Regions from separate parts of the Homo sapiens genome. Here region 1 is linked to region 2. Evidence: fine-mapped expression QTL. A gene starts in region 2. The other region holds a variant in brackets. All regions are shown on one strand. Distances are from middle to middle.

Region 1 (2,792 bases), 31 kb after region 2:
GTGTGTCTTCACTCTGCTGATGGCTGGCTTAGGCTCTGCATTCTCTCTCTCCCTCTTCCCCTCCCGCTACCGAACTTGCCCTTGAAATTTCAGCAGCTGCTGTTGAAAGCATTCTTTTTGAAGGCCACTAGGGACCCCTAATTGCCCAACTCAGTCGCTTTCATAGTCTTCATCCTCTTGACCTCTTCTCAGGGCAACGGACTGGCTCACCCGCCCTTCTCCCTAAAACCACAGAAGGCCGCGCTTGGCTGTCCCAGTCTCTGCCCATTTCCTTCAACAAAAATGACAGAATGCCGGCTGCTCTGGGAGGTACAGAGGTGGATCCACTGTGGAGCCAGCTTTGCAGGTGGTGGCTTGTCAGGAAAATTCTGCAGGTCCTGGTCTTTTTTTCTTTTCTTTTCTTTCTTTTTTTTTTTTTTTTTTGAGACTGAGTCTCACTCTATTGCCCAGGCTGGAGTGCAGTGGCATGATCTCGGCTCACCGTGACCTCCGCCTCCCGGATTCAAGTGATCCTCTTGCCTGAGCCTCCCAGGTAGCTGGGATTACAGGCGCCCACCACCACGCCCAGCTTATTATTGTATTTTTAGTAGAGACAGAGTTTCACCATGTTGGCCAGGCTGGTCTCCAGAACTCCTGACCTCAGCTGATCTAGCCGCCTTGGCCTCCCAAAGTGCTGGGATTACAGGCATGAGCCACCACACCCGGCCTGGTCCTGGTATTTCTTGTATACTCCCCACACCCCAGTGAAGATGTTCTCTCAGCTTTTGTCCTCAGATGGGGTGCCTGGAATTGGTCTTTCCCCTGGAGGAGCCCCACCTTCTAGTGGTTTCAACTTTGCCTCTCCTTCAACAACCCAGGAGGGCAGCCCTGAGTCTCTGACCCTGACTCAGTGGATGTCCAGGCAGAATTATGTCAGGAATGGATCTGGGCTTAGTGTTTCTTCCTCAGCAGCCCCTAGGGCAAACAGACCTCCCCTCATACTCCTTTCCCAGGCCGTGAGCTCTTTTTAGGCAGGTTGGGGTCTAATTCTTCTCTATCCCTCGGCACTGGGCATGCAGTTGGCCCTCCATCAATATTTATGGAATAATGGCCAGGCGCAGTGGCTCATGCCTATAATCCCAGCACTTTGGGAGGCTGAGGCGGGAGGATTACTTGAGGTCAGGAGTTCAAGACCAGCCTGGTCAACATGGCAAAACCCAGTCTCTACTAAAAATACAAAAATTAGCTCGGTGTGGTGGCGCATGCCTGTAATTCCAGCTACTTGGGAGACTGAGGTAGGAGAATCATTTGAACCTGGGAGGCGGAGGTTGCAGTGAGCCGAGATTGGGTCATTGCATTCCAGCCTGGGTGACACAATGAGACTCTGTCT[C/G]GAAAAAAAAAAAAAAGTTATGCAATAATGAGCAAAGAGGTTCAGGGCTTGCCTAAGGCTTGGCCTTGCTCTTGGCTTTCATCACAGGGACCTACATGTTGGCTGGCTGTTGGGAGGGAGAGCTTTGGAAACTGGCTGTCCCTGGTACAGGGGAAACAGTGAAGAAAGCTGGGTCCCAATTTCTGGGTTATTGTCTCGGCTCTGCCATTTTCTTTTTCTTTTTTCCCCCCAGTTATTGTTTCCTGTTTTTTCTTTTTCTTTTTTTTTTATTTTTTGAGACGGACTCTCGCTCTGTCACCCAGGCTGGAGTGCAGTGGCACAATCTCGGCTCACTGCAAGCTCCGCCTCCTGGGTTCACGCCATTCTCCCGCCTCAGCCTCCCGAGTAGCTGGGACTACAGGTACCCGCCACCACGCCCGGCTAATTTTGTTTTTGTATTTTTAGTATAGACAGGGTTTCACCATGTTAGCCAGAATGGTCTCGATCTCCTGACCTCGTGATCCTCCCGCCTTGGCCTCCCAAAGTGCTGGGATTACAGGTGTGAGCCACGGTGCCTGGCCTGTTTTGTTTTGTTTTTGTTTTTGTTTTTTTAGATGGAGTCTCACTGTGTCACCCAGGCTGGAGTGCAGTGGCACAATCTCGGCTCACTGCAACCTCTGCCTCCTGGGTTCAAGTGATTCCCCTGCCTCAGCCTCCCAAGTAGCTGGGATTACAGGCACCTGCCACCACGCCCAGCTAATTTTTGTATTTTTAGTAGAGACGAGGTTTCACCATGTTGGCCAGGCTCATCTCAAACTCCTGACCTCAGTTGATCCACCCACCTCGGCCTCCCAAAGTGCTGGGATTACAGGCGTGAGCCACTGCGCCCAGCCCGTTCCTTTTATAAATTATTTCAGTAGGCTTTTGGGGAGCAGGTGGTGTTTGGTTACATGGATAAGTTCTTCAGTGGTGATTTCTGAGATTTTGGTGCATCCACCACCCAAGCTTGTACACTGTACCCAGTGTGTAGTCTTTTATCCCTCGCCCCCGCTCCCAATCTTCCCCTAGAGTCCCCAAAGTCCATTGTTCATTCTTATGCCTTTGTGTTCTCTTATACGTGAGAACATATGTTTGATTTTCCATTCCTGAGTTACTTCACTTAGAATAATGGTCTCCAATTCTATCCAGGTTGCTGCAAAGGCCATGATTTTGTTTCTCTTTTTTTTTTTTTTTTTGAGACAGAGTTTCGCTCTTGTTGCCCAGGCTAGAGTGCAATGATACAATCTCAGTTCACAGCAACCTCTGCCTCCCGGGTTCAAGTGATTCTCCTGCCTCAACCTCCCGAGTAGCTGGGATTACAGGCATGTGCCACCACGCCCAGCTAATTTTGTATTTTTAGTAGAGATGGGGTTTCTCCATGTTGGTCAGGCTGACCTCGAACTCC
Region 2 (2,792 bases):
ACCCTTTACAGAGAAATTAAATGGCCTTGGTGGGACCAAATGGGAGTATCTAGGATTGATTTCACTAGGGCTGTTGTGAGAACCAAAACATTTGCCCCAGAGAGGTCTGAGTGGGGTCCCAGTCCCTGCTGCCCCAAGCCTGGCAGGACAGCAGACCTCTGGATGGGGACCTCCCAAGGTCTCCGGGATACCTGAATCCTGCTCTGTGGGTGTTGGAGCAATCAGACTGCACAGAAGGTTTTCTAGGTGGGAGGGAGTTCAGTCAGGAGCCCCCAGTTTCGGCCAGAAACTGACGCTCAAGATACCAGATCGCTGTGAGGAGTTGTGAGCTTTCCCTGGAGGAGAGAACGGGGGTTTTCGGAGAAGACCCAGGCCCAGGGGTTCCTTCAGAGTTTGCTCCTGAGCTCCCTGTATTCTCCCCACAGTTTAAAGGCTGGACTAGACGGGTTCTGGGTGCCTTGTGCCTCCTTGTTCTTGACAGCCCCCAACCCTGACCCCTCTCTGCAGGGGGTTGGGCCTGAGGTTAGTCATCATGTGTTTGTGTTTGTCCCTTACCTCCCAAGGGTAATAAGGGAGGCGCTCTCCTGATGGAAAATAAAGTCAAGAGACAGAGGGGGACAGCACATGGATCGCCAGCAGAGCAGAGCAGCCTGGCTCTCCTGGTGCCTGCCATGTGTCTGTGCGTCCTGCTCCTCTCAGCCTCATCATGTGGGTGTGAATTCTCTGAAGTGTGTGAGGCCCTCGCCTGTCTGCATCAGAGAGAGCTGGGTCAGCCTGGGTAACGCAGATACCACCAGCCAGCGTCAGGCTCTGAGACAAGCTCACCCACCCCCTCGCACTCAGACCCACCCTTCCCCAGACACCCTGTCTCTTCCATCCCCTCCTGGTGCCCTTGCAGACTGGTGTTGGGTGTCAGGCAGCAATGAACATGGACAACTAATGGTGGCGGAGGAAATTAGTCAACTCACCAGTGAGCCAGTGCTGGCTGTGCCACCAGGCAAGGGGAGGGGCAGAGGCCTGGCTGCCCAGTCTGGCTTCTCTTCCAGGCCGTCATCTTGACAGGCCACACTGGGCAAGATGAGGCTTGGCCCAGGAGCTGCTGGGGATGGAAATGTTGATGAAATCTTGTGTGTTGCCAGGACAACTTTCATTTCTATCCTGCCACACCCAGGCCTGGCCAGAGCCTCCTACAATGAAACACAGAACAGATTCTAGGAACGCATGGGTTTCAAGAGAAAGCAAAATCTCATCCTGGGAGACCTGCCCCTGGAACCCTGGGTCCTCAGACAGCTCAGTCAGGAAGGGCAGCAGGAATGATCATCGCCACTTTGCAGACGGGAAACCGGAGGCTTAGCGAGGAAGTGGCTTTTTGGATTCCAGGAGAGCCTCTGGAGGCCTGCCTGCCCCTGTGGGGTGCTGTGGGGTGCTAGCCTGGGACCCAGAGGCCCCTTGGCATTTGCTGGCAGCCTCCCAGCTGCATTCCTCAGCATGGAGCCCGAGGGAGAGAGGAGGCCTGGGACAAAGGTGGACAAAGGTTGTTTACCCGGAGGTGCCTCTGTGTGTGTGTGTCTAGGAGGTGAGAGAAGATTCCAGAGGGCTGCTGGAGTGTCGGGGGAGGGGTGTGGGTGAGGGTGCTGGGTGCTCATTGTGGGCTGGTTATGCCAGGGAGGGGCAGGTGAAGAGTTTGGCCTTTCTTGGCCCAGAAGCTGAGGAGCCTGGAGGCAGGGAAGCTGCCAGCTGCTCCTCCAACATCCCCCTTACACGTAAAAGGCTGAAGGGCGCAAATAGGGCAGCACCTCGGTGGGTTAATTCCCGCACCCCCACCTCACCCCGCTGGAGGGCGGGTGGGGCAAGAAGAGAACAAAGGAGAGGATGCTAGCCGGGAGTGTGGGAGGGCCTGAACCCAAATGGGAGGGGTCCGTGAAAAGGGTCCCTGTCTGCCCCTCCCCCTGTCTGGCTCCCTGATTCCTGGGTAAGGGGTGTGCAGGGAGGAGATCGTCCTGGGGCCAGAGCTGGGGCTTAGCACTGGAGAGAACCGGCTCAGCTGTGGGTGGGAGCCAGGCCTGGGTCCCTCGGTGCCCCGCCCCCTTCGCTGCTTCCAGTTGTTCCCACACCTGCTGCTTGGTCTTGAAGCCTGGGCCTCCACTCCGCCTACTGCAATGGTGGAAGCTCCAGTTTACAAGACACCCCCACCCCCACATCACACGCCCTAGCTGGGGAAGTTGGGCTTGGACACAGCCTCCCTGGGCCTTTCCACAGCTGCCCTCACGCCCTGTGCTTTCTGGGACCCTCTTGGTCAACTGGGCCGGGGAAGGGAAGCGCAGAGAACATATGTTTCATGGGAGTGACTGTTGAAGCCTCCCACCACCCCTGCCCAGCCTGTCTTAGGATCCCTCTTTCTTCCCCGGCAGGAACTGCCCGACCCCAGGTGGAAACTCCTGTGCCCAGTGGACAGACCCTGCCTGCAATAGGGTCAGAGTATGAGGGAGAGGGGTAGGCAGAGATTGGTGGGCTGGGGCAGGAAGAAGCTGCCAGGGAGTGGGGGGAGGGGGTCCAAAGGGAAGTAACGGTATTGGGGGGAAAGGTGGCCAGGTCCCATTGCCCTTGTTGGGAACAGGCAAGTGTGGCACTGGCCCTTTAAGTGGGGGTGCCAGTCAGTGCCCTCCCCCAACCAACCCAATTCATGGGCACACTGAGCATGTGCAGGGGCTGTGCATGTGGGGAGGGGAGGAGAGGGGAGGGGAGAGGGGGGCATACATTCCGGAGGGAGCTTCTCATCCCCCTACTTCCGG

What was found. PIP is the estimated chance that this variant, and not a neighbour inherited with it, causes the effect.
Region 1: its variant is fine-mapped to the expression of HEXIM2-AS2 in whole blood (TOPMed, PIP above 0.99).

The regions. Positions count from the first base shown.
Region 1 is chr17:45,200,712-45,203,503 of GRCh38, forward strand. The region is part of intron 2 of FMNL1-DT (FMNL1 divergent transcript); the gene reads right to left. Among named protein-coding and RNA genes, the nearest start is that of FMNL1-DT, 20 kb to the right of the region's middle. RefSeq lists a silencer at 1,852-2,036. The variant C/G (reference allele first, on the strand shown) is at 1,370.
Region 2 is chr17:45,169,996-45,172,787 of GRCh38, forward strand. HEXIM2-AS2 (HEXIM2 antisense RNA 2) reads right to left here and starts at 1,490. Exons shown (of 2, transcript NR_135646.1): 1 at 969-1,490; 2 at 1-335. HEXIM2 (HEXIM P-TEFb complex subunit 2) reads left to right here. Exons shown (of 4, transcript NM_001303441.2): 4 at 1-40. RefSeq lists enhancers at 382-1,340, 1,427-1,721, 2,299-2,792 and a silencer at 1,887-2,181.